Linked DNA regions of Homo sapiens. The protein of the gene in region 1 interacts with the protein of each later gene in a biochemical or structural test. Each region holds a gene or a part of one and is shown on either strand. Other genes may lie near its edges.

The links. The genes of interacting proteins can lie anywhere in the genome.
Region 2: of the proteins of PTPRK (region 1) and PDPK1, one has a biochemical effect on the other in vitro, tested with the Homo sapiens proteins (one large-scale study listed by IntAct).

What each region holds. Positions count from the first base shown.
Region 1 is NC_000006.12:128,518,414-128,522,158, forward strand, and holds the start of PTPRK (receptor-type tyrosine-protein phosphatase kappa isoform b precursor), read right to left. Parts: upstream 2,187-3,745; 5' UTR 1,946-2,186; coding exon 1,846-1,945; intron 1-1,845. UniProt on the Homo sapiens protein: Regulation of processes involving cell contact and adhesion such as growth control, tumor invasion, and metastasis. Negative regulator of EGFR signaling pathway. Forms complexes with beta-catenin and gamma-catenin/plakoglobin.
Region 2 is NC_000016.10:2,544,521-2,548,165, reverse strand, and holds part of PDPK1 (3-phosphoinositide-dependent protein kinase 1), read right to left. Parts: intron 1,339-3,645; exon of another isoform or gene 1-1,338. UniProt on the Homo sapiens protein: Serine/threonine kinase which acts as a master kinase, phosphorylating and activating a subgroup of the AGC family of protein kinases.

The DNA.
Region 1 (3,745 bases):
ATTTAAAAAGAGAAAAAGTTTTCTAACTGCTGAAAATATATCCATCGCTGTTGAGACATTAATAGTTGCAACTCTTGAATACATGTAAGTTTAATTATGCAACTGGTAGAGTTCAAACTTTCAATTAACAAACTACAAGCCTTTTCAAGCGTAGGCTCTCCGTGCAGTGACAAACACTGTGCAGAAATCAATACTCACTCCAACTTGCCTGCATATAATGAGTTACATCAAGCACGGTTTCAATGCTAACGGGCATTATATGTCAGAAATGCATGCAGTAATGCTTACTCCAGAAAGAATTCAATTAAACCATTGGATTATTTTTTGCATAGAGCTGTTACCCTCTGCGTACATCAATTATATACAGGGCTTTTCCTCTGCGTGCTGCCATTTCATAATCTCTGCCTGAATGTACGACACATGCTGCCACCTGAATCTGTTGTTTAACTCCCTTTACAGAGTTCTAAATGGGGCGGGGGTAGGAGAGCAATGGAAGGGAAATAAACGATTACTCCAGAAAACAACAATTTGAGTTTATTTCCAGGAAACAGGGCCTCCACAACAACGTGAGAAACTGTCAGGTACAAAGTAAGTTATTTGCGTCCTGCGGCTTCAGCCAGGAGCGTGGCTGTCGCTTTTCCCGTCTTCTCCATCACCCTCTGGCCACCACTGCGTCTCCATCTGCACCGCGAACCCCAGCAGCAGATGCGCTCGCCAGCCAAGCGAAGCTGGGTAGGTTGGCCAGAAAAGTTGTCAGGACTGGCGGGAGGTAGACAAGTGCTCGGGAGCCCGCTCCCCAGCGTCCACCTGGTGAAACTTCAGAGCCCCCAGAGGAGAGAACGAAAGAAGCAACCAACCTACACGAAGGATAACAAAACTGGAGGGGAACAGAGGGCGGGACCGGGAGAGCCAGGGTTCACGGACTTCTCTGAGCGGCTTGACCGAGAACCCCCAGGGCTACAGCGAGACGCTCCACTTGTCTCCTTTTGGGTTCTCCGGCAGAAGGCAGACATTTACAGTCCGCTTCCAGCCCCAGGCCGGATCCGGGGAGCGCGGGGCCAGAGCCCCAGGCCGGATCCGGGGAGCGCGGGGCCAGCCTGGCGGTGGTTTTGCCCGAGGAGCGGGCTCCCACGCGCGAGTCAGGCTTCCTCCACCAGGCGCCCAGACCTCGATGCCCATGAACGCTCAGAGTGGGTCCTTAGAACCGCATTTCAACACATCTTACAGGGCTCCGCCAACACACACACAGAACATGCTCCAAGCAGTGCCCGAGCGCACAGGGCAAGCCCGGGAGCAACCCAGAGCTGGGGGAGGAGAAAAGGGGACTCCGGGAGGGACGGGGAAGTAGTTAGACAATAGTCAGGGGAGGTTATTCCCGGGACAAAAAGCACCTGGCAAAGCGCGCCGAGGTCAGTCCCTTCGAATCTCCACATTTCTGACAATGGCTTCCCAGGGAATTTGTTTAAACACCCAAGTGGCAGACAGCAACAAACCCGCACCACAAGCAACAGAGTGCCGTCACGGGAGTCGTAACTACTTTTTCTTTCTCTCTTCCCCACTAGCCCGGCGCAGGCCACGCGAGACGCCGAAGCCAGCAGGTCCCCACACTCTCCGGCTAGACCGTGCCAGCCTGAGCCCCGAGCAAGCTTCGGAGAGGAACAATGGGTGCCCCGCGTCCCACCTGGCACGAACTCTGGGGACAGCCCTCCCTCTACCCTGTGTTCCCCACCCCCGGACAGAGAGAGCTCCCCACGATCCTTGTCCCCAGCCCTAGCGGGGACCTGGCTCACCCCTCGTGAGCCCAGGACTCCAGGCGTTCGTCGGGGACGCCCCCCGGCCACTCACCTGCGGAGAACTGGCCTTGGGCCGATCCCAGGAGAGGCCAAGGAGAGAGGAGCAAGAGCGCCACAAAAGCAGGCAGCGCCGCCGCCGCAGTCGTATCCATGCCGAGTTTGGGAGAAGTTTCAAGCAGCTTTGCAAAGAGCTGCCGGGGGGATCGCCGCGAAATCCACGACGGAGGAGCGGGCCGGGCCTCGCGGGGTGAGGACGGTGAGAGGACAGCCGCCCGCCCGCCCTTTTTCCTTCTTCGCGGTCGCCAAACTACCTCAGGGGCGAAAGCGTCGCCAGCGTCGCCGGCCGGCCGCGGCGGCAGCTCTCCATGCTCGGCGGAGGCTGCTCCTGTTAGTCAAGAGTTACTTTGCTCGGGGAGGGACGGGGGCGGAGCCGGGGGTGACGTCGCCCCGCGGGCTCCGGGCGCTTCTGAGGAATGCGGGCTCGGGCGCGGCGCCGCCACCGCCTCCTGCCGGAGAGACGCGCGCCAGCCCCGGCCGCGCGCCCCGCGCCGCCTTTGTTCGCAGCCTGGGCCCCGCCGCCAGCCGCTGCTCGGAGGGAGCGAGCGAGAAAGGGGAGCCGGCGCAGCTCGCTGCCCTGTTCCAGAACTCAGAATTTGAGAGGCGAGAGTTCGGTAAGCCGTGCGACCAGACGACCGAGGACGCGCGCAGAGAAACCCCCGCCGTCCGAGGAGAGGCGTCCTGGGGTTCCGTCCCAAGGTGGAGGTCCCCCCGAGCGGTTGCTGATTGAAAGGGGAGTGTGGAAGCGCCCTGAGGAAACACCCGCCTGCCTTGAAAACTCCCCGTTCCTTATTCTTGTAATAAGGAATAAGACACCCCACCCCCATCGAAAACTTGTCCCTTATTCATAGAATAAATAAAACTTGAACCAGAATAAACGATCAGTAACTTTCCAGCGTGAACAGCTGGCGTGTCTCCTTTCTGGTTTATTTGTCATTGGCCAAGTATTTGGATTTACTCTGCTTCACTGACTTTGCTTGTTGCTCTGAAACCCTCCGGCCCCTTTCCAGTTCTCACCTAAGAACTGCATCAGGGCTTATTATCCCTTCCTTGCACCTAGGTCTGGTGTGTGTGTGGTTTTGTTTTTTTTAATATCTAGTAGGTAGTTAAGACATAAGTATTTAACAAAAGGACTTTTACACTGACCATGAAAACAGCTTCTTCGGAATGATTCATCTGGCAGAAAATAATGCTATATTATGACAGTAAAATATTTCACAGTTAACTACTTCAGCAGCTTGAAGTGGTTTCGCCATATGCCACCCTGCCTTACTTCTGTGGTAAGACTGTATGGTGCATACTTTATTCATTTTTGTAAAATGTCACAAAAAATAGGTATGGTCACAATTGAATAACATAATAACTTTGATTCAGAATTTTTATGTGTTATGTACAATTGCTAAAACAATAGTCTGTTGATTGACATCTCTCAGTTTCTCAGACATCTTAGCCTTTGTAAATCAAGACAATGTGAAATTCATTTTAATATAACATTCACATAATTTACCAAGCCACATATTCTTTTAATCAAATATATGCTATTAATGACCAGACTTATGACAGAGCCTGTGGAAACAAAAATGTAATAAATATACACACAAATATATACATATATAAATACATATTATACACACATACATATCAGGCAGAAAAGACTTTTAAAAATTCTATGAGAATAGTAGCCTGCTCATTAGCACACTGACTAGCTCAACCCTTGTCAATTCAGTTCAGCATAGTTAAGTTCATCCTTCCTTAGGGTGCAATGTAGATTTTTTTTTTTTAACTCATTAACCTATACCTTTCAACACACCATCACCATTCCATTTCTTTAATTAGAGAACATTCCTAGATCCCAGGTAACAAAAAACTGAGGGACATATTTTTCTTTTTGAGGA
Region 2 (3,645 bases), on another chromosome or scaffold:
AAAAGGTCTCAGAGTTTGGATGCAAACCCAGCCTCCCAGCAGAAGCCAGCTGTATCAGGCGAGTGCAGGCCGCCTAGAGGTCCTCCAGGCCCACACGAAGAGCGCGTCCCACTCAGAACCTCCCCCACTGGAGGCCGATTCCCTGCTCAGGCAACCCAGACCTCCCCGAGTCGCCACCCCAGCCAGGAGAGCTCCTCCCCTGCTAGTCCACGTTGGGGCCCAGACTCTGCCCGGCTCTCTGAAGCAGCCCCACAAAGGCCGGTCACCCTCTCCTGCTCAGACACTAACTACCCTCCCTCTATGGGCACCATCTGCAACGGCCGTGCTATTGACTGTTTCCCTTCTGCCCCTGGGGCTCAGAGAGGGACAGGAGCATCAGGTGGACCGTCCCCCTTCAAGCTGTAGAAGCCATCTTTTTCACACAACATTTCCTCAGGCCAGGAGCATGGGGCCCGTTCTGTTCATAACCACTTTTCCTAAACCAACCGGGGCCGTCCTCACCCTTTCTGCCCCAGGCACAAAGCTCAGCGCCAGCAGCATCTGCACAGGAGAGCTTGCTAAGATTTTTTTTTAAGCATCATTTTGAGCTTCCGACTTTTTACGGAATGAGAACGCAATGCGTTCACCAAGAAAATCTATATTCAGATGCACATTTTAAACTAGATATCTGATAATAACCAGGTACGTACATACAATCAAAAGACTGTAATTCTGACCGATGGAAAAAAGCCATGAAAGACAAATGCCAGCCTGCAGGAAGAACATGTGAGTTACCCATGGAAAAGCAGCCGGAAGCGCTCCGAGCATCTGAGCGTCTGAGCCCGTGCTCTGAAGGAGCTGTGTACTCCCTCAGCCTGGCGTCCAGAGTCAGGCCCAACTGGGAGAGAGAAACGCAGACGAACCTAGCGCTCGCCCTCAGGAAGGACCCCCTGATGAGGTCCACATGGGGGGAAATGAGCAGCCGTCAGCCTTCCTAGCTCGTAAGTTGGGAGCCTGCTCACTAACCTGCCTCCCCAGGGTCTGGCTGCTGCGGCTCTCCAGATCAAACCTTCCCAAGAACAGGGCTGAGCAAAGCCAGCGCTCCATTCTTCCAAAGACTGATCTGTCCCCATCCTTTCCCACAGGGGAAGTCCAAGCAGTGCTGTGTGCCAGCCAGCACTGGCACACGGTGGGTCTGAAGGTCAATTAGCCCCGCCCCCACCGAGGTCGGAGAGCTCTCACTCACTGAGCCCTGGGCCTGGGTGCACAGCGGGGACTCTGAGACAGGTGGGCTGCTGAGATCCTCACTGCTGGGCTCCCCAAGGACCATCAGTCACACAACCATCCTGCGGATATAGCTGCAGCTCTACAGGTGGCTGCACCCACCCACAGAGCACACGTCCCTTTTGCCGCCACAGGACACCTTAGAAGCTACAGCAAAGTCAAGGCCTAGGAAAAGCCTCATGGCACCTTGCCCAAGCAGGAAAGAGACCAGGAGAGTAGGGCCCCGCTGTCAGGAAGGAAAAGCAGCTTAAGGTTAGAAGGGCCACTAAGGAAGGCCGGGCACGGTGGTTCACACCTGTAATCCCAGCACTTTGGGAGGCCAAGGCAGATGGCTTGAGGTCAGGAGTTCAAGACCAGCCTGGCCAACATGGTGAAACCCCATCTCTACTAAAAATACACAAATTAGCCCAGCATGGTGGCAGGAGCCTGTAATCCCAGCTACTCATGAGGCTGAGGCAGGAGAATCGCTTGAACCGGGGAGGTGGAGATTGCAGTGAGCCGAGATCGCGCCACTGCACTCCAGACTGGGCGACAGAGCGAGACTCTGTCTCAAAGCACTTTGGGAGGCTGAGGTGGGTAGATCACGAGGTCAGGAGTTCAAGATTAGCCTAACCAAGATGGTGAAACCCCGTCTCTACTAAAAACACAAAAATTAGCCGGGCGCAGTGGTAGGCACTTGTAATCACAGCTACTCAGGAGGCTGAGGCAGGAGAATCGCTTGAACCCGGGTGGCAGAGGTTGCAGTGAGCCGAGATCGCGCCACTGCACTCCAGCCTGGGTGACAGAGTGAGACTCCATCTTGAAAAAAAAAGTTACCTTTAGCTCATCATCTCCTAAGCAGTATTCTTGCCATAAATACTTAGCCTGAACCTAATCTAACAAGGAAACAATGAGACAAATCCAGATTGTGAATCCTGTATTTATATAAAATACGAGACAACTACCCTCATATTTTAAGAAATGCTGGCCAGGTTGCTGTAGCTCATGCCTGTATTCCCAGCATTTTGGGAGGAGCAGGTGGTAGGATCACTTTAACCCAGTCCAAGACCAGCCTGGGCAACAAAGCGAGACCCCATCTGTACAAAAAATTTTAAAAATTATAATTAGCCAGTGCTGGGCATGGTGGCTTACGCCTGTAATCTCACGCTTTGGGAGGCCAAGGCGGGTGAATCATGACATTAGGAGTTCGCGACCAGCCTAGCCAAGATGGTAAAACGCCGTCTCTACTGAAAATATAAAAATTAGCCGAGTGTGGCGGTGGGCGCCTGTAATCCTAGCTACTCATGAAGCTGAAGCAGGAGAATTGCTTGAACCCAGGAGGCGGAGGTTACAGTGAGCCGACATCACACCACTGCACTCCAGCCTGGGGAACAGAGCCAGACTCCGTCTCAAACAAAAAAAATTAGCCAGGTGTGGTGGCACAGGCCTATAGTCCCAGCTACTCAGGAGGCTAAGGCTGGAGGATGGCTTGAGCCCAAGGGAGTTCAAGGCTGCAGTGAGCTATGATCATGCCACTGCATTCTAGTTTGGGCAACAGAGCAAAACTCTGTCTCTAAAAAAAAAAAAGAGAGAGAAAGAAAGAAGAACAAGAAAGAGCTTTGAGGAGGACAGGTGACCACTGAGGAAGGCTGCACGTCACCTTTGCATTAGAAAATGCCACGTTACAATAAAATTCCACCTCTACTAAAAATGCAAAAATTAGCCACGACTGGTGGTACACACCTGTAAGTCCCAGCTACTTGGGAGGCAGAGGCAGGAGAATCACTTGAACCCAGAAGGCGGAGGTTGCAGTGAGCCAAGATCGCACTACTGCACTCCAGCCTGGGCAACAGCACGAGATTCCATCTCAAAAAAAAAAAAAAAATGCAATGTTAATGCTATCTCGGATGTGATGATGAAGAGGTTGTACAGGTGACAGCTTCTGAGCTCAGAAGGCATCTGGAGAAGGATTCTGGGGTGAAATGCTATCATGTGTGTGACTTACTTTCAAATAATAAAAATAATAGAAAAAAATTTTGGGCCAGGTGTGGTGGCTCATGCCTGTAAATCCCAGCACTTTGGGAGGCCGAGGTGGGCGGATCACGAGGTCAGGAGATCAATTCCATCCTAGCTAACAGGGTGAAACCCCGTCTCTACTAAAAATACAAAAAAATTAGCCGGGCATGGTGGCAGGCGCCTGTGGTCCCAGCTACTTGGGAGGCTGAGGCAGGAGAATGGTGTGAACCCAGGAGGCGGAGCTTGCAGTGAGCCGAGATCGCGCCACTGCACTCCAACTTGGGCGACAGAGCGAGACTCCGTCTCAAAAAAAAAAATTTGGGGGAGGTGAGGGGGTAATGTATACAAGCAAATATGGAAAAGGTTAACAACTGGTAGAATCCAGGT